2 linked regions of the Homo sapiens genome follow. The protein of the gene in region 2 purifies or fractionates together with the protein of the main gene of each other region. This does not show direct contact. Each region holds a gene or a part of one and is shown on either strand. Other genes may lie near its edges. The genes, in order: ZNF644 and ADNP2.

The links.
Region 1: the proteins of ADNP2 (region 2) and ZNF644 purify together in Homo sapiens (affinity purification with mass spectrometry; 2 studies listed by BioGRID and IntAct, with this or other methods). This does not show direct contact.

The regions. Positions count from the first base shown.
Region 1 is NC_000001.11:91,017,101-91,027,801, forward strand, and holds the start of ZNF644 (zinc finger protein 644), read right to left. Parts: upstream 4,936-10,701; 5' UTR 4,890-4,935; exon of another isoform or gene 4,589-4,889; intron 4,384-4,588; exon of another isoform or gene 2,883-4,383; intron 1-2,882.
Region 2 is NC_000018.10:80,103,458-80,113,447, reverse strand, and holds the start of ADNP2 (activity-dependent neuroprotector homeobox protein 2), read right to left. Parts: upstream 4,187-9,990; 5' UTR 3,976-4,186; intron 3,558-3,975; exon of another isoform or gene 3,427-3,557; intron 1-3,426. UniProt on the Homo sapiens protein: May be involved in transcriptional regulation. May play a role in neuronal function; perhaps involved in protection of brain tissues from oxidative stress. May be involved in erythroid differentiation.

The sequences.
Region 1 (10,701 bases), on a different chromosome or scaffold from region 2:
GGGATTACAGGTGTGAGCCTCCACACCCGGCCTATATAAAGTATTTTAAAAGCTGTATTTTCAACTTAAAAAAAAGATACACATACCAAAAGGCTTAACACATAAAATCTGCCTTCATCACTCTAACCCAGCTTCAATTCTACCAAAATCTAGGCTAACAGAATTAAGCTTCAAGGAACAAATCATTTATCTTTATTTTTACTTACAAAATCTCAGTTCAAAGGATTCCAAATGAAATGGGAAGACCACAGCTAGCAGACAGAAGAGGTAGGGCCAAGATTAGTAGGAGAGGGGAAAGAAAATCTCCCAGAAACGCTAATCTTAATCCAGTCTCACTTTCTCCCAACCAAGAGAAGTGTGCACTGCTGCTACTTCTGCCCTGGCAGGCTCCTCCTCCTCTTACTCTTGAAATCCTCTGCTTTTTTCCTCCTGGAAAGTTACTCTCACAGGGCTGTTTTTCTTCCTAACATCTCTCAATTGTCAAAGGATTTCTTATCTTGAAATTAAAAGAATAAAAATATACTAACTTTCCATAATCACATAAGAGTTCCCAGGAAGTTCAAAAAGGATAGTAACTACTGCCAGGTGCGGTGGCTCACGCCTGTAATCCCAGCACTTTGGGAGGCCAAGGCGGGTGAATCACCTGAGGTCAGGAGTTCGAGACCAGCCTGGCCAACATGATGAAACCCCATCTCTACTAAAAATACAAACATTAGCCAGGTGTGGTGGCCGGCGCCCGTAATCCCAGCTACTTGAGAGGCTGAGACAGGAGAATCACTTGAACCTGAGAGGCAGAGGTTGCAGTGAGCCAAGATTGCACCACTGCACCCGCGCCTGGGAAACAGACCGAGACTCCGTCCCCCAACCAAAAAGAAAGAAAAAGAAAGGATAGTAACTCCATGGTTCAACTTGGCAGATCTGCAAAAAAAATTATAATGCAGCAACTAAGGCCTTAGAGACAAGAAAACACCTTTTTCATGGGAACTTCCTCTCCCTGAAGAAAGACAGAATTTAATTTAGAGTCTTACTACCCTCTGGGTCTCCTGTGATCTTCATGTTTGTTTCTTAAGGGGAAGAGGAGAAATCTTTTAGCCAACCAGCAGGGTGAGCTAGTGCTAGCATCAGTTCCATGATTCTCAAATCTCCCAAAACTCAATGGTGTAAACGGCTTGCACTATTAACAGCAGCTATTTATTTCCCTCTAATAAACCTGAATCAAAAACACCACTTCTAGAACTGCTTCAGTCAATGCTATACCTGACAACTTTACTCAATATTTACAGATTCTCCATATACGAAATAGACATTCTCTCTACCAGAAAGATTAATAAGTGTAAATAAAAGCTCATTTGAATATGTATCCATAGTATTACAGTATCCACTCTTCATTCTCGTTTTATTTTACAAGGTTACTAATTTAAAACATTTAGAAAACAGTTTAAAAAATGGTTAAAACAAGTGCTCTATAAAATCAGGGTTAGATAACTCAACATGCCAATTTCTCCATTTGCTGCAAGCTACAATTGTCTTAAGACCTGACTGAAAAGCCTTCCCAAGAATAAGATTCACTTTTCCTTCCAGAATCACATCCTGAGAAAATGGTCTAAATAAGTAACACTAAAAAACAATATTTAGGATGACAGAAAAAAAATGGACCTGACCTTTCTCTAGATTGCAGATATCCCACCACTTCTATTCTCTTTGAAACTTTCTTTTCTCCTCCTGCTACCCATTAACAGTCTCAATTCAACCAAAACACTCTTATAACTTGAATGACAAACTAAAACTGGAAAATGTTTAAGGTTGGCAGGTGACAGACCACTTTATAACTACAAATAACCTGAAAGTGACTCTAATTTTCACAAAATGAAAGTGTAAGTAAATCCACTCACATAATGTTGAAAATTATAAAACAGCTTATCAACTAACAAAAATCAGTAATTTAAAAGCACCTTATATGACCCATAAAAACTTTTAAAACCTTAAAACAATTTAACTTTTTGCTAAATCTGACATTCAAAGAAGTTAAAAATCACTATAGGGTTCCACCATAAATGACTGTCACTACTTGTTCAATTTCCTAACAGACCTTAGAGGTACCACTCAGTAGAAGTAGTAGTCTTAAAAAGTTGTTTTAAAGAAAGGGAACATTCTGAGTGGCACATTCGTTTATCCAACCAAAACACTATTACAAAATGAAAGACACCATTATTTTCAGCATTGATCTCATTTCTTTTCCTACATAATAACTGGCAATAACAGCAGTTATTTCAAACTTTCAAAGAAATTTATCAAGTCCCTGGTTGTTGTTTTTTAATTTTTCAATTTCTGGGTCAAGACTGCATTTGGAAAACCTTAAAATTCAAAAGCAACATTGCTCTGAAACTATCTGATATTTCTGTATTTTGTACCTGATTTTGTTTCACTGAAAGTCACTTTAAAAACCAAGTTAACCACAGAATATGAAAGTTTTTTTGTTTTTTTGTTTTGAGATGTAGTCTTGCTGTGTCACCAGACTGGAGTGCAGTGCCACGATCTCAGCTCTCTGCAACCTCTGCCTTCCGGGTTCAAGTGATTCTCCTGCCTCAGCCTCCCGAGTAGGTGGGACTATAGGCACCACCACGCCCAGGAAATTTTTACATTTTTAGTAGAGACGGGGTTTCACCATGTTAGCCAGGATGGTCTCGATCTCTTGACCTCGTGATCTGCTCGCCTCAGCCTCCCAAAGTGCTGGGATTACAGGCGTGAGCCACCGTGCCAGGCCAATATGAAAGTTTTTAACTTATTGTCACAGAAGTTCTCATGAACCTAACAATATTTAATTAACAAGTATTCTCAATAACATTCCCTTGTTTTTTTAACCATTAGTTGTAGATATTCACCTTCTCATCCCAGCAATATGACAAATACAAACAGCAATGGGTAGAGGCTGAAAGGCAATTTTCCATTATGCCACTAACTTAATCATCTCTGGTCCTCAATATATTGTAAAAGAGGAGGGTAAGAGCAGTTGTTCTTTGATATTGCTTCCACTGTAAAACTTTATGATCCAGGAATACATTTGCTAATGTTAATGCATCTCCTATTCATTAATACAAGACTGTTCTGTATTAGAAGCTAAAAAAAGAGAAAATATATATCTGAAAAGAACAAGGAAATGAAAGTTAACTAATGTTGAAAAATTCAAATTTCAGTTTGAACACAGAGATCTACACAGTGATCTAATGTGTTTAAATATCCCTCCAACCAAGGAATTCTGTTAATTGCCAACACAAAACATTAGGTGTTTCAAAATTTTGTACTTCATGAGTTAATACCAACACAAAGTATGATATAATTGCAGTATAACTTTAATTTGTTAGAAATTGTAAGACTTTTAAAAGCAATACATACCACTGCATTAATACTAATCAAGCTTTATGCTTCACCAATTAAAATGTCTAAGCTAGATTATAGCCTTATTATAAAAACGAGGTTTTTCTTAGCAAGCCTACCAAAATGCAATATTACTGCCATCAAGTTCCCTAGATACTTACACATGCAACTGAAGGCAAACAGCCAGGTTTCCTTTCTTTGAGAAACTTTAGTTGTCTATTTTTTGAAATGTTTTCCTTCTCATGGGACCAAAAAATGTTTACAACTAAAGCAAACTACTGCAGGGAGGGAATACACAATTAAAACAAATCTACCATCCAGATGCAACAAGCGTGGAATTAGGACTGGACAGGATAGTCGGCGGTGTTGTGATACTTCTGTTGAAATTATTAACAAGACAAGACCATCATTCGCCCCCAATTATGTTTATCCCCTCGTTGAGTTTGATGATCACACAAAATCTGAAGTCTAAATATAAACGTTTTTATATTCAAAGTCAATATTCAAGAAAACTTTTCCACTAATGTTGCTAAACCATAGATGGATCCCAACAAGAGTTGTCTGTAGAAGTCTCGTAACAAGTAACCTTTAGCTCCACCACCTAAGTTTCCAATCACTGAGAAGAGTCTGGGACAACTCATCTTCAGGTTCACGGGAGAAGTGGAGCACACCTGCTTTCCTCTGGCAGAGTAACTTCCCAGGGACACAAAGGCCAGAGAATCAGACCTGGAGAGGCAAAAAGCTTTAGCTGGACACCCACCAAGCCCCTGGCAACCCAAACACTTCGAGCGATTTACCTCTTGCTGTTACTTCCCAGGCACCTAGCCGCATAAGATCTTGCAGGACGGGGGGAGGGGAGGGCTATGCGGTCCTGTCCCAAGTAAGGGGAGGGGTGTAGACAGTTAATGCCAGAGCCAGCGTTTCTGGCCACAACCGAGCAGCCTCAACGAGAGGGGTTGGTGACTGCTCTCGGCCCGCCCCGTTACTCAGTGCATTGCAATGGCGACCGCCAGGCTCCCCAAGCCGCCTGATCTCGGCCCCTTCCCCCTACTGCTCACTGGCTGCTCGGCTTCATGTGACTAAACAAAACCCCCAAGTCTAGTGCCCAGCTCAGCCCCTTTGTGTCCGCTACCGGATCCTCCGACGCCGCAGCGGAAAGCCCCCCCCCCATCCCCCCGCCGAGTCCCGCCCCGCGGCGGCGGCCGCCGCTCACCTCAGGCTCCGTGGCCCCCAGCGACCGCCGCGGCCGCCGCCTCCCCGAACCCGGGGCCCGGGCTCCTTGTGTAGCACCAACTCCGCCTCCTCGGCCGCCGCCGCCATCTTAGCCTGTGCGGCAAAATGCGTCCTTTTGGATGGCTGGGACCCAGCCTAGGGCGTAGCTCCCCGGGCCCGAGAGCCGGAGGCCGGGTCCCCCAAGTTCTTCCGCCACCCTCAGTCCCGCCGCTGCCACAGCCCAGAGGCCCGAAACCCACTCGGGTCCCAGCGAATCTGACCAAATAACCCCTGAAACTCACAGTTTGGTGCCGTGTGCGTCAAACCGGGGCGACGTTGGGAGCACGCGGCGTCCCCGCGTCACACGCCGCTCTGTACGCTACTCGGCTCCAGCGGCCCCCCTCCGCTCCCCGCTTTTCGCCTCCAGCCCCGGTTCCCACGGCGCAGGCGCGCTGCTTTCCCGCCTCTGCCGGGCTGCGGGCCGCGGGGGTGGCCAGCGAGGAGCTCCCGGGAAGCTTCGCGCTGGTGGAGCGTCTGGGCCAATTAGACAAACGAGGGCAGCGGAAACAGTGCACCACTGTTCTCGGGTGCCAGAAACCAAACAAGGTCACCTCCCCCAGCGCTGACCTAATCACTCCCAAGGAGGTTCCCGCCCCAAAGTAGGCACGCTCCAAATATGGTGGTGCCCAAACTCTGCAAGACCCAAGCACTAGGCATGCCTAGGCCCTTTAAGGTGGAACAGGCCCAGGTTTGAGTTCCACGATCACGAGCGTGCAAAAATCTCTGTTATTTTCCTCTTGTTGAGGAAAACAGCAATATTTGCCAATCACAACTGTGGAGTAATGGCAGAGGGAAGGTTTTAGGATCTTAAGGGGGCAGATTGTTGGGAGTTGCTTGATGGCCAGGCAAAGCATCAAGTGTGACATCTCAGTTACCCGGACAGCCTGCCCTGAAAGGTGGCCGAGGTTTGCTCCAGTTTGACTCTCTGAGGATACTCTCTCCCTGCATTACTGAAAGTGTCGTGGTTCTACGAATTAAAGTTATATAAGAAGCATGTGAGATGCTGGTTAACCCTTCAGAGAATCAGTCCCTAGAGGGTTCTGGAAATTTTCATTTTTAACAAGACTTCACCACAGGATCCTGGGGCAGAGAAACACTGAGTGGGCTATTCTTTTGTTTTTCGACTGAGCCAACGAGAAACTGCTAACATGTTTAAGATTAACCAAGAGTTCTTGAGAAATCTACTGGTCCCGCCTTAATTATTTGGCTTCTCTGAACCTCTGTTTACTCATTTAAAAATTTAAAAATAAAAAAGTTTTCCTTAGTTGTACAGCTGTCATTACTGTGGCCCTCCAAACCCTCAAGATGTTATTGACATTCGGAAGAATATACCATAACTGCATTTATTTGACAAGAATGAGAAACATTCTCTTTCCTATGGAATGATGCCTTCAGCAACAGCAAACGTAGATTCCAAACAACAAATATTTGACTAAACACATTAATTGCTTCATTACTTAATAGCTAACACTTTTGAGTGCTTACTGTGTACCAGGCATTGTTCTAACTTGCTCGATTTCATTGTAACCCAATGAGACAAAGAGGAGTAAGGTGATTTTCTCGAAGTCATACAGTTCTTTGGGCTCTTTAAAATGCAAATCTCCTGTCTTCATTTACACAAATGTGTAAACAATAAAATATAAATACGTATATATTTGCAGTCAATGGGGGAGGGGTGCTCTTTGGATCATTTCGTTTGCAGAATCCATTAAAATTGGACATTCTCAGTTTACTATTGGACTTACTACAAAATATTATGTACTATGGAAATTCTTACATTATATCACTGTAAAAGCAGTTACTAAGAAAATAACTGTCATTAATGTATACCACTGACTAATGTGCAGACAAATCACACAAGCAAATAGAATCATTCAGAACTCAGCCATGATCAGGAACTTGTCTCACTAATGAAGCTGTTTTTTACACTAGAACTCAGCAACTGAATTGTAATACTGTGGAAGTCATAATAGCAGTAAAAGTAATCATAGTAATTATAATAGTAGAAGTAGTAATAGTTGATGAAACGCTGTACAAAATGGATCTCAAAAGCTTCTATGAATGGCAGAAAATATAATGACAGAAAGCTTGAATAAGGTAATGCGAAAAGAAAAAAAAATACACGTGAGTTCTCTGTCTAGCCGCAGACGTGGGTCTCTGTTCTGCAGGATGGGGTTTGTAAAAGTTATTAAGAATAAGGCCTACTTTAAGAGATATCAAGTGAAATTTAGAAGACGACGAGAGGGTAAAACTGATTACTATGCTCAGAAACACTTGGTGATACAGGATAAAAATGAATACAACATACCCAAATACAGGATGATAGTTCGTGGAACAAACAGAGTATCATTTGTCAGATTGCTTATGCCCGTACAGAGGGGGATATGATAGTCTGCACAGCATATGTACACGAACTGCCAAAATATGGTGTGAAGGTTGACCTGACAAATTATGCTGCAGCGTATTGTACTGGCCTGCTGCTGGACCGCAGGCTTCTCAATAGGTTTGACATGGACAAGATCTATGAAGGCCAAGTGGAGGCAACTGGCGATGACTACAATGTGGTAAGCATTGATGGTCAGCCAGGTGCCTTTACCTGCAATTAGGATGCAGGCCTTGCCAGAACTACTACTGGCAGTAAAGTTTTTGGCACTCTGAAGGGAGCTGTGCATGGGGGCTTGTCTGTCCCTCACAGTACTAAATGATTCCCTGGTTATGATTCTGAAAGCAAGAAATTTAATGCAGAAGTACACAGGAAGCACATCATGGGCCACAATGTTGCAGATTACATGTGCTACTTAATGGAAGAAGATGAAGATGGTTACAAGAAACAGTTCTCTCAATACATGAAGAACAGTGTAACTCCAGACATGATGGAAGAGATGTGTAAGAAAGCTCATGCTGCTATACGAGAGAGTCCAGTCTGTGAAAAGAAGCCCAAGAAAGAAGTTAAAAAGAAGAAGTGGAACCGACCCAAAATGTCCCTTGCTCAGAAGAAAGATTGGGTAGCTCAAAAGAAGGCAAGCTTCCTCAGAGCTCAGGAGCGGGCTGCTGAGAGCTAAACCAAACAATTTTCTATGAGGATTTTTCAGATAAAGACAATAAACTTATGGACAGAAAAAAACATACAGGCAACTGAAAAAATCCAAAGACAAGTTATGTGGCTCAGTGCCAAAATATTTAAGGAAATCACAGTTGAGAATGAAAGTCAAGATGTGGAAAACAGTTTGGGAGAAAATTCATAACACATTGTGAATAAAATGATGCTCCAATGAATACACCTGGTAAATGTTTTAAAGAAATAAAAAGCAAGATGCTGGTTTTTGTTGCTGTTGTTGTTTTTAAACTTTTATTTTAGGTTCAGGAGTACATATGCAGGTTTGTTATATAGGTAAACTCATGTCACTGGGGTTTTGTACAGATTATCTCATGACTCAGGTACTTAGCCTAGTACCCAGTAGTTATTTTTTTCTGATCCTCTCCCTCCTCCCACCATCCACCCTCAGGTGGGCCCTAGTGTGTGTTGTTCCCTCCCTTGTGTCCCTGTGTTCTCATCATTTTGCTCCCACTTATAAGTGAGAACATGCAGCCTTTGGTTTTCTATTCCTGAATTAGTTTGCTAAGAATAATGGCCTCCAGCTCCATCCAAGTTCCTGCAAAGGACATGATCTCATTCTTTTTATGGCTGCATAGTATTCCAAGGTATATATATACCACATTTTCTTTATCCAGTCTACCACTAATGGGCATTTAGGTTAATTCCAAGTCTTGGCTATTGTGAGGGATACTTCAGTGAGCATACACATGCATGTGTCTTTATGGTAGAATGATTTATATTCCTTTGGGTATATACCTAGCAATAGGATTGCTGGGTTGAATGGTAGTTCTGTTTTCAACTCTTTGAGAAATTGCCACACTGCTTTTCACAACAGTTGAACCAATTTACACTCCCACCAACAGCATATTAGTGTTCTCTTTTCTCTGCAACCTCACCAGCATGTTATTTTTTGACTTTTTAATAATGTGGCTACTGTTAATATGTTAAAATCTGACCATATTAACACAGTGTATGAATCCATTAGTGATTACCAGATTATCAGTGAATGGAATTACCTGATAAAAAACATAAAGTGGCCAGGCACGGTGGCTCATGCCTGTAATCCCAGCACTTTGGGAGGCCAAGGCAGGCAGATCACGAGGTCAGGAGATCGAGACCACCCTGGCTAACACAGTGAAACCCTGTCTCTACTAAAAATACAAGAAATTAGCCGGGCGTGGTGGCGGACGCCTGTAGTCCCAGCTACTCAGGAGGCTGAGGCAGGAGAATGGCGTGAACCCGGGGGGCGGAGATTGCAGTGAGCCGAGATCCCGCCACTGTACTCCAGCCTGGGTGACAGAGCAAGACTGCGTCTCAAAAATAAATAAATAAATAAAGTAAGTTGTGGTCTCAAATGACTTGCTCAAAAAGAAAATGCAGTTCAGTGTTGGATAAAAACAAATAATTCTCCTCATTCCAATGCTTTATAATTCCAAGCAAAAAGAAAGAAATGAAACATTAATCTACTAGTAATAAAGTCAAATCAAGTTTGGATTTTGCTCAGTATCCCACTAGTTCTGGATCAACCTCTTAATACCAAAACTGTAAAGCAAGTCACTCTTGTGGAACTGCAAATAGTTCAGTATGTTTGTTCATTGGAGTGGGGGTAGGGAGGATGTGTGGAGTAGAAAGAGAGATGATGTAAACAGAAACCAAGTTTTGTATTTATTTTTGTTCCACGCTGACCTGAGCACAGAGCTTTACACATAGCAGGTATGCGATAAATAATTCCGTTCAGTTCAACCAACATTCGTGGATTGTTTACTCTATGCAAGGTACTGTACTAGGCACTGTCAGAAAAAAATGAATAAGACAGTTCCTTGAAGCTATTCAATAAATACTGTTGAATGAATGCAGTGCTTTTATACTTCAAAGAAAGAGCTAGACAAAAAGGTACAATCAACTCTCAATTTACCAGGGAATGGAGGACATAAGGAATAGATAATAAAGTTCTCCAAATCTCAGTTAAAAACAAAGGCTCATAAAACATAGTACAAAATAGATTTAGTATACACATATTTAATGAAAATTATATCTAATATTCAGAAACACATTTGCTATTCTACTCAGCATATCATTATGCATGCCCCCTGGAGGATGTGAAGGTAAATAGAACACACTCAGCTCTCAAATATTTTGTGGTGGAATGGATCAAAAGTTGCATGTTCATGTGCATGTGCAACTTGCGTGTTAAAGTTGACAAAGAAAGAGATCAGCTCATTGTTCAATTGGTGCTTCACCTAGTGATGATAATGCTGTGGTATCATTTTCCTCTGGAGTTTGGCTCTTAGCTTTGCAGGTTGAGAATCAGTTGAACCAGAGTTGATCAAGCGCAGATAGATGAAATGCGTAAGAGATTAATAAGTAAATCAAACGCTGATATATTAATTTACAGTAAAATTTTTGACTGCCAATCATAATGGAATACCTAAGCAGACTGGTCAGCACATTCCCTCTCTGTAGAGAAGGATGCTAGGAACACCAATTTACTTGCTTGATGAGCATAGAATTAGATGAATATGATCTCAGCAGATGGTATCATGAAACTTTGATAGCAAATTGCACTCTGCCATGATGATGTACCTGTCAAGGGAACTTGGACGGTTTAGTCTGCTTTCACCAGGACAATAACTCTTTTAAGAGTTAAAATCTTTCTTTTAAGATATATAACATACAAACCACAAGAAGATGAAGTATTTATAATCCGTATTTCATCAATTCTATTACTTTTTTTAAAAATGTTGTAACATTTCAAATTGTGTCTTACAATCATAATTTGTAATTACCAGTTTTTTCTTTCGTAGGGGTTCATAAAATAAGGGCACACCTTTCAGTGGTATCTTAGAATCTAGTGGAATGTGATAATTGCATGACTTTTTTTAAACTCCCTTACTTCTGTTTTGGTAAATTGACTTTCATCAACTTAGTAGTTGCCCCACTACATCATTACGTACACA
Region 2 (9,990 bases):
AAAGGTGGACTGGAATCAAACTGGGAGAGGAGTGGGAGGCAGAAAGGGTTAACATATAATAGGGAGAAATTTTTGGTGGGTAACAAGCAAACACCAAGTTTTTGAGAAGCTGTTTTGAAGCGGATAAATTTCTTTTCAAAGTTATCTATGTGAAAAATGTATCCTGGTCTCAGCAAAAGGAGAGATTTAAGGATCATTAGCATTGTAGAACTGGGAGGATAAAAATTTAAAAATTTTCTTTATAAAATTTTAAGTTTAAAAATTTTCTTTAATAAAATGCACTGATTTGGGTTCTAGCCTTCAAAAGCTTACACTCTCACACAAGAGCTGCCATAACCTCATTATGCATTTCTAAACACTAAGCTCAAGGTCACTTTCTGGCCCAGTCCAGCTTCTTTGGTCAGAGCAAAACTCAACGAAAATTTTGTTAGCTGCTTTCCAGGGACTCTATCAGACTTGATTTCATTTCCTCCTTAAAGTTCCACTATCCTCTCTATCCTCTGGGGTTCTTCTCCAAAAGCTGGCTGACAAACAGTGTTGTCTAAAGTAGGGACCATCATCCATATGTATCTGAAACAGGGAAGCTAAATTTACTGCTTCCAAGAAAATCTCAACTCACACAGCCAGAGCTGATCTTATCACAGAGTTTTGAGAAGCCTGGGATACAAAGACTGGTGGACTTTTAAAAGCAGAGTGATTGGGGATTGGCTGATTCATGTAAGCATGGTTGTACATACATGAACCTCAGAAAGGGGTTACTAAAATGAGGCTCTCAGAGATTGGGCAGGGGTCTGTGGTTACTTGTTCAAGGCTTGGGACTAGGGCCAAGGAGTTGTCACTTTTTTATTTTTTTCCCTTGAATTTGAAAAATAGGAACTTTTTATTCTCAAATGAAAGTGCTTCCATTCCTTCATCGTTATTGTGGCCCTTCTAAACAAAACAAAACACAAGCACACAAATACCTTTTCATTTAAAAAAAGGAGGGGGAAAAGTTCCCCCCTCCTTTTTTTTTTTGTTTAGCAGTTTCCTAACTGCTTTAGGGAAACCAACAAAGGATAAAAAATAAAATGCAAGTAAATTACAGGTTTCATAACTGTTGCCAACCACTTTGGGGATGGGAAGCTGACTTTTACCCATAATTTATCCATTCTAAGCTACCACAATTTATTCATTCTTAGATCCATTCTTATAGCATAATTTATCAATCCTAAGATAAAATATTCCATGTAAAATGCCCAGTGGATGAATTAACTATGAAATAGTTCAATGTTTTCATATTTATAGATCCTCTATAGATACTGTTCTCCATAGAATCTTAGAGCTCAGTAAAATCTGTATTTTCACCATTAGAAAACAGCAGGCTAACCGGGGCGGCCAACTATTTCCACATCATGCACCAACCTATCAATTTCAATTCAAAATAAATCTCAATTCCTAATGTTTAGGGTAGGCATGGAACTACCATAAAATTCCACTGATATGCACAAGAAAATATTATTTCCCAAAAGGGTACATAAAGGACTTCTCTGGGGATTTTTTAGTATAATGATCTCGTAAGGATATTCTATTATAGAAAAAAAAATACATTCTAAAAGAAAATGTTGGCCGGGTGCAACGGCTCACACCTGTAATCCCAGCACTTTGGAAGGCTAAGGCGGGCAGATCACCTGAGGTCAGGAGTTGGAGACCAGCCTGACCAATATGGTGAAACCCTGTCTCTACTAAAAATTACCAAAAAATTGGCTGGGTCCTACTCGGGACGCTGAGGCAGGAGAATCGCTTGAACCCGGGAGACAGAGGTTGCAGTGAGCCGAGATCACACCACTGCACTCCAGCCTGGGCGACAGGGCAAAACTCCGTCTCAAAAAAAAAAAAAAAAAATGTCATTCAGGTAATACAGTAATAAACAATACTTTTTAAGCCACAGAACTTTTTTTTAGTTCCTGTGAAATCGCACAAAACGATGGTCACCAAAAAGGATTCTGGAGTTGTGTGCCCGGGTTTACATCAGCTCCACCATTTATGAGCTGTGTAATCTTCAGGAAATCACTTACTCTCTCCAGGCCTCAGCTGGCTCTTCTGTAAAACAGGGCGAGTATGACCTAATTCACAGAGTAGTTATGAGGATAAATGAGTTAATACATGCAAAACAGCACATAAGCACTGAGTTTGCTATTAATTAACTCCAAAAAACTAAATGAAATGTCCCAACTATTGGAATACAGGACTTTTTAAAAAGCAACTTTAAAAACACAGAATACTTGGATCATATATTCAGCAGATCTGGGTTCAAATCACTGGGAGATACCGGTTTCCACCTATGTAACACATTGCCCTAACAGGTCTAGGATAGCCAGAGGATGAAGGGCAGGGCAGAAACCAAGTTTGCAATATGCTATTGGTGAACTTATGAGGGCAATCATAAATTAACCAACAGCATATTGCAAACTTGGGTTCAAATTAAAAACGTGTCTCCCAAATCCCAGAATCTCTTCAGCTAAAAATCTTAGCATAGCTGTCATCTTCCCCCATAAACAGTGATCAACTCCTTTCAGACATGTCCTAACCCTCACTGTTCCTCCCCTCAACTAGAGGGCCGGTAGGACAACCTCTTGTCTCATCTTCACTCTTGTACTTCCTTTCTTAACACACATCTGTCACTTCATGTTTAAGGACGACGGGCTCAATGCTGTCTTCGCAGTGAAGTCCTAACTCCAACCGAAATTTAACCGAAATATTAATACACACTCATACATGGCCAACTCTCCAAGAACATCTTTAAATAAGTTACACATACATTACCGACTTCCAAATACAGCTGAACATGTACTTTACACAACTCTTTTTACATGTGGTCCTCTCTCCCACTAATGCTCCTCACCCCCAAAAATGGTACCCAGACTCCAAACCCCCTCTTTTGATAAAGGCTCTGCGTGGCAGATGCCCACAGTACTCTACAAACTGCTGCCCCACTTGCCAATCTGCATTGTCAGTTACCTGCTTACCAGTTTCTCCTCCCCCACCCCACTCCTCCACAGCCAGTATATTCCTCAAGATCCCAAGAGGCAGTGATTACCCGTGCAAATAGAGTAAGTTTTAAGCACGCAGGCAAGTCTTCTGTTCAAATAAACTACTTAAAATATCTAATTATTTCTCATTCTGCATCTGTACAGTATTTAAAAGGGCAGTTAAAATTAACATTCCAAAGTCAACTGTAGTAGAAATTTTGTAAACGGAATCTATTTCAATGCAACCAGCAACGGCAGATGAAAAGTAATGTTAAAGTCAACATCTGTATATCAATTATTGATATTCGCATCAAAAGCTCAACGATGAAGAAACAGGGCCCCGTTATCAGCTGTTCTTCAAACCTTTCTAGGGAAAAAAAAACCTGGGCAGATTTAGGTGTCACCGTCAGCTCCTGACCTACATCTGCCGTCACTCAAGGCTCCTCCAGAGAGAAGCTTCCAGGAGAACCCGGTCTCGGGGATGCGGCGGGCGGGCCAGCGGGCGGGGCGTTTCTGGAGTCCTTACAGGGGTCGCCACAGCTCCTTGCCCCCTCTCTTCTTCTCCATCCCCGTTCCCTCTCCCTCTACTCCTCGCTCCCTTCACCAGCCCCCCTCTCTCCCTCGGTCCCCGTCCTCGTCTTTCCCCTATTCCTACTCTCCCCTCAGGTCCCCATCCCCTTCTCCGCCCTCCCGGGGCGGCCCCCGCTCCCACGTGACCGGCGGCGGGCGGGGCGGGCCGCGGGCGCGTCGGGGGTCGACGGGCGCCGTTCGGGCCGCGAACCCGCGCCCTGAGAACGTCCCGGGATTCCCGAGGCGGCCACGGGCGGCGCGAGGGCAGGCGGCGGGCGTGGGTGTGGGCTGGGTACCGGCGGGGGCGGGGCTCGGAGGGGACCAGACTGGGGCGGGGGCCAGGACCGGGGCAGGGGGCGTCGCCGCGCGGGCCCGCGCCGGGCCGGGCCGTACCTACCGCTTGGCGCCCGAGGAGCACCGCGTCTCCGCTGCTGCCTCTCGCAGGGCTGCCGCGTCTTCCGCCGAGCGCAGCCGCGTCCCGTGGGGCCGCCTGCGCCCGCCCGCGCCTCCGCCCCGCGCGGCGGGACCCCCGCCTCAGCGCGCGCCCACCCCCAGCGCGACTGGTCCCCTCCTCCCGCGCAGCCAGAAAGAGAAAATGGCGCTCGATTGGCCTCAGGAAGTGACGTTGGCCCTCATTTGCATGTAGGCGCAGCCAGCCAATGAGAGCAGAGTGTGCTTGGGGGCCCCTGGCACTTCCCACAGGCCCCCCGGGGCCCCTGGCTAAAGATGGACTGGAGGCTCTGGGGTGGCAGTGGGGGGCCCCTGTTGGACCCCCTGACTCCCTTCTGTCCCAGGGAACTGCCCTGCCAGCTCCTTTCCACATCTGTGCAAACTCTCGTGAGAGTTTGAGTGGGCAATGACGTCACTAAAGGGGTGGGGAGAGTGTGTCATCAACCATGTGACTAATCACGTGGACTCACCACAGCTTTGACTTCATTTGCATGGAATGGGGTGGAGCTAGTGGCAGCTCCAGGAGTGGTGACCCCGCCCACATCTCAGAGCCAATGGGAGCCCAACTGTGATAATGCTGCCTTGCCATTGGAAGACAAAACTTTGGCTCCCAGAACTGGGACAAGTGTGCCATGATTGGCATATCCTGGTGAACCGACTAGCTGGGGTCTCCTGACTTCATCATTCCTGTGGGAAAGTGATCACACCTTCTCTTGAGAATTCTGATTTTTAGATCTACTACAAGTTGTGTGGGGAGAGGGTTAATTGCATACATTTGTATAAACTCTTAACCTAAAAGTTCATTTTTGCACAGGTGTTTATCAATTGTGTAGCAATAATAATTTATTCCACAAAATTAGTGGAAACATGGCGTAGGGCTTTCAAAATGGCTCTAGGTCTTCGTTCCGTGGAGTCCCCAGGCCTCTGGCGGACGCCCTCGTGCCCCAGAGCACGTGGGAGTAACCACGAGGGCAGCGCAGGCGCCTCCCCCAGTGCCCCTAACCTTAACCCTAATTCTGACCCTGCACCTGAACCTCACCTAGCACTAACCCTGACTCTGACCCTAACTCCCCTCCAGTGTTCCTTCCCCTGACCCTAACTCAGCCGCGCCCTCAGTGGCTGTTCCAGGCAGTTCCTTCTTGGCGAAGCCGTCTGCAGGACACGTGCCCCTTTCAGCACAAGGCCACGTCTCCTTCCAGAGCGCCGAGCCCCTGCAACCCGCCGCCAGCCTCCAGCCCTGAGGCCCACTCCAGCCACCGCGGGGCAGAGGCCGTGCCCAGGCTGGGCCTTCCGCCCACCGCCCTCTCCAGAGCCTCCTTGTCACCATCCGCTCGTCCATAATTTCAGCTTTTCCCTCTCAATGGGAGCCTTCTGCTCAGTTTAGCCCAGTGACTAAACACATAATAGGCACTAAATTAATGTCCATATTCGTTTTAAAACTGTGTTAAATGGTGGGCCGATATGACCTGACCAAAATTTGCTTTTTTCCTACATGAATACAAGTCATAATTGAAGTAGAGTTTGCCCTTTATGTTTGCTGACAAGTTAAGATTTTACTTTGAGTTACAGTGGTAAATGGGTGTGATGTCCCTATATATCTTCCTTGCAAAATTATGGGTGGGATGAAAAGTGTAGTTAAAGCCTGCAGTCTCCCATTGATCCTCTAGTGACCTCTCATTTTATCACATTTCTCAAAACAGCAGTCCCTGTGTCTGTCTCCTCAGCCCCCTGCACGCCTCTCGCCCCCACCCTCACCACTCTGCAGAAACGCCTTGGTCACCAGCGCCCTCCTAATTGCTGAGCCCAAAACAGATTTTAGGCCTCGTCTTTCTGTATCTATCTTCCATTTGTTACTACAGACCAATCCCCCTTTCCTACAGACCTCCCGCAACAAAGCCGCCCCACCACCACTACTCCTCAAACGGGCTCTTTAATCTCCAAACTCGGGAACTGTTTCCTAATCTACAGACCTCCCCCCACAAAGCCGCCCCCCCCCACACCCACTACTCCCCAGACGGGCTCTTTCATCTCCATATTCACGAACTGTTTCCTCATCTTCGCCTGCATCTCTTCCCGGCCCATCCTTGAACGCGGTGTTCTCTGGGATCCTGCTGACTTTTTCCTTCACGGTGCAGCACATATGCGCCACTCGCTTCCTGTGTGCCAGGCACCGTGCTGGGTATTGGAACTCCCACGCCTTTCATTTTTTTCTGCATTTTCTCCCTTGTTAATTTCGACCACAGATTCAAACCTTGTTATGTCAATTCCAAACCAGTATCTCCATCTCTTTCCTACGTTTCAGTTTTATTTTTCTGGCTGCCAAAGGGGGCAGCTCCACTTCAGAGTCCCACAGGCAACTCAGATTCAAAACGTTCAAATCTGAGCCCATCATTCTCTCCTCAACAGCCTCTCCTACAGCAAGCAGTGTGTTCCCCATCTCCAGTTTTCCAATTTTATATCCCAAATATTCGTCAGATCTCTTCCCTCATCTGCAGCCGCACTATCACTACCTGCATTCAGGTCATCTCCTGCCTGTAACACCTGCACAGGCTCCCACCACCTTACCTCCAGCTTGGTGCCTCAGGTACTTTCCCCAGTCAGCCCTTTTAGAGAGTGAACCTGACTGTCCTTCCCTTCTTGCTGCAATCACTCAAAATCCCCCAGGAATCAAGCCCAGCTGGTGAGCACGACACACAAATTCTCCAAAGCTGACCAGTCAGTCCCCAGCCTGTAAACACCACACGGTGTTTGTTCATGGGACTCCTGTCCCAACCCCTGAGCTAATTTTCATTCCATTGCCATTCAAGGCTGAACTCTACCGGCCTCTCTCCCAGAAAGATCTCCCTGAACACACACACACACACACACACACACACACACACAGTCAAAATATGGTAGGTACTTCTTGACATTCCCAAAACATTGTGTGTGTCTCCTGCTGCCCTCACCACGTTGTTTACTGTTATCTGCTCACTGCTTGTCTCTCTATGGGGCACCAGTAAGGACCGTGTCTCATTCATCATTGTATCCCTGATGCCTACATTACTTTAATAAATACAATATCAACATTTTCATAAATACAAATCTAATAAATATAATAAAATTTAAATGTTGAATGATTTTCCCCCTGCATTTTGCTATGAAAATGTTGAATGTACTGAAAAGCTGAAATAATTGTTCAGAAAACAACCATCACCTAGCTCTTCCAGTTAACATTTGCTTACTTGCTTTATCGCATATGTATTCAAATATTCATCTCGACTGTTTTTTTTTTTAGAAAACATCAGTACACCATCCTTAAACACTTCAGCATGGATATCTGATGAATACAGTTTAAAACCACCATCCACAGCATTGAGATAAAAAGGACTGTCCCTCCCACCACAGAAGGAATGAGCAATGTGACCTGGGGACTTGTCAAGATTATTTTCATAGACTCAGGAAAGTGCACCACACTGAAGTCATCAAACCGAAGACACAGGTTGGGCCTCAGGACTTATCTACCAGGCGAGTCACAGCTCATGCAGGTTTATTCTGCACACCCGCTCCTGAATAACAAGAAGACCACAGACTTGGTGGCAGTATGAGTAGATTCCTCGACCCCGGTTGTTCAGCTAGGTTTGAAAGTGAAGATGGCCCATGTGGAAGCTTCCCACTCTCTCATCTAGGTCCCCCTATAACCAGCATCGGCATTTGTAAGATAGTTGTTCAGAACAAAGGGAGCCCCAGAGTTGACTGTGGCAGCCACAGGCACTGTTGTGTGAATTAGAAAAGCAGGGGCCCTCTGGGTGTGTTGCTGTCCTCCGGGACCTGGATGGTCAAGATGAAGGTGCCTTGATATGTTTTTCAGTATCACTTCCTCTGCCTCTGTGCAGACCCAGCCTCACAGCAGGGCACAGACCTATGTGAACAGAGCGAGCTGGATTTCAGCTCCCACTTCCCGCTCTGCTCACTCTGTGTAAAGACAAGTGTGAACAACTGTAGTCAGCAGCCCGACTGGTCTACGCACAGACGACTGTGCACATGCAAGTGTACAATCCAAGAAACTGCAGAGTTCATCTAAAACCAGTGAGCCACAGGAGAGGAGAGCTTGGAGAACAACTTACATGTACTCTTTCTCTACTTTGTTTTTTGAGGTTTCTTTTTTTCTCTTAGAGACAGGGTCATACTCTTAGAGGCAGGCTGCAGTGATAGGATCATAGTTCATTGCAGCCTCGACCTCCTGGGCTCAAGGGATCCCCCCACCTCTGCCTCTCAAGTAGCTGGGACTACAGGTGTGGACCACCATGACTGGCTAAGTTCTTCGGTTTTGTTAGAGAAAGGATCTCTCACTATGTTATCCAGACTGGTCTCAAACTCCTGGACTCAAGAAATCCTCCCGCCTCAGTTTCACAAAGTGCTGGAATGAGAGGCGTAAACCACTGCACCAGGTTATTTCTCCCCTTTATTCTGCATACGCTCTGTGTAGGTCCAGCAGGCACCAATAATACAGTGCTGAGCAGACTCCATCCCTGCTCTCCTGGAGCTTAAGCTAATGGAGGAGAAAGGCATCCGCGAAATAACTACATGATGAAAATATAATTATAAACCTTGGTCAATGCTCCTGAGAAAGGAAATCTCCATATATGCCTGTGACCCAGAAACCTGATGTAGACCAGCAGTCTCCAAGAAGCAGGGTCTGGGATCAGAGGATAAGTAAACACTGGCAAAGCAGAGCTGTGAGAGGCGGAGAAGAGAGGTCTGTGAGAGGCCCCAAAGAAGGCCTGCGCCTGAGGGAGCCTGGCACAGCCAGACCAGAGCAGTCAAAGTGCAGGCCACAGGAAGACGAGGATCACAGGGGAGGCCAGGGCCAGGCTAGGAAGCCATTTGGGTCTTATTAAGACCAAGGAGAAGCCAAGGAAGTGGTTTCAGTGACCGGGTTGATAAGATCACATCTGCATTTGAAACGTACAGCAGGGCTTGTCCTGCGGAGAAAGGAATGTTGATTGAGGAAGGGAAGATGAGGCTTAAGAGGAGGTTGTGGGAGCAGTCCTGGTGAAAAACGATGACAGCTGGGAACTTAAATGAGGGTGATGGCAGTGAAGATGAAAAGAAGTGGCCAGCCTTGAGAGAAACTTCGGAGGGGAGGGAACCTGCAGTTGTTGGCATGGAGAGCTGGAGGCAGGCCCCAGAGGTGGGCGCTTGTTTTTGTGGATTTACTGGCTTTGGAAATATGCTTGGCTTTCTCTAGTTGGTCCTGAATTGGAAGTGGAAACAATAAAAGCATGGAAAACTGGCAGTCATTGACTAAGTCCTGGCCATTCTGGTCTGATTGCTGCAGAGGCATAGGTCAGAGATCGTCTTACACGGTCAGACCATTGTCTGTTGGCACATTCAGTTTGGTCTCCCTTCCCCTTTTGGTCATTCTCTCATTGGAGAGTTTGGACAGCTCAGGGGAGGCTAGAGATCCAGATCTTCACAGCTTGGGGGTTGTCTGGTTGCCTCCATAGGCAATCATTTCATGAGAATTCTTTTATTTGTGTTGTTGTAGCATCATGGAGATCATCTGATGACAGAGCAGCTGCACAGAAGCATTGCAGACTCTGCAGAGGATGCAACCAACAGCATCATGACCACTGTGACAAAACAAGACTAATAGTTCTCATAAGATGCTTCTGAACTGGGAACACCAGTTTCCCATCCCAGGACAAGAGAACAAATCCCATAAGCCGTGAGGATCAGCCTTAAAGAGATAAATAGTTTTTTCCTTATGGCATTGTATAGTCTCTTCCACTTTGCCTGTTCTGTTCATCCAAGTGCAGTGAGAAGTACTAGCAGCAGCACAGATGCCACGACACCAACAAGAAATCTAGAGCAATGGGCTTGTTCATCACCAAGTATACCAGTGAGTCGAGACTGGCCTGTGTTCCATCCAGGGCACGGGAGGTGGTGTTCACACTTCTGCCAGAGTGAGTAGTAATTT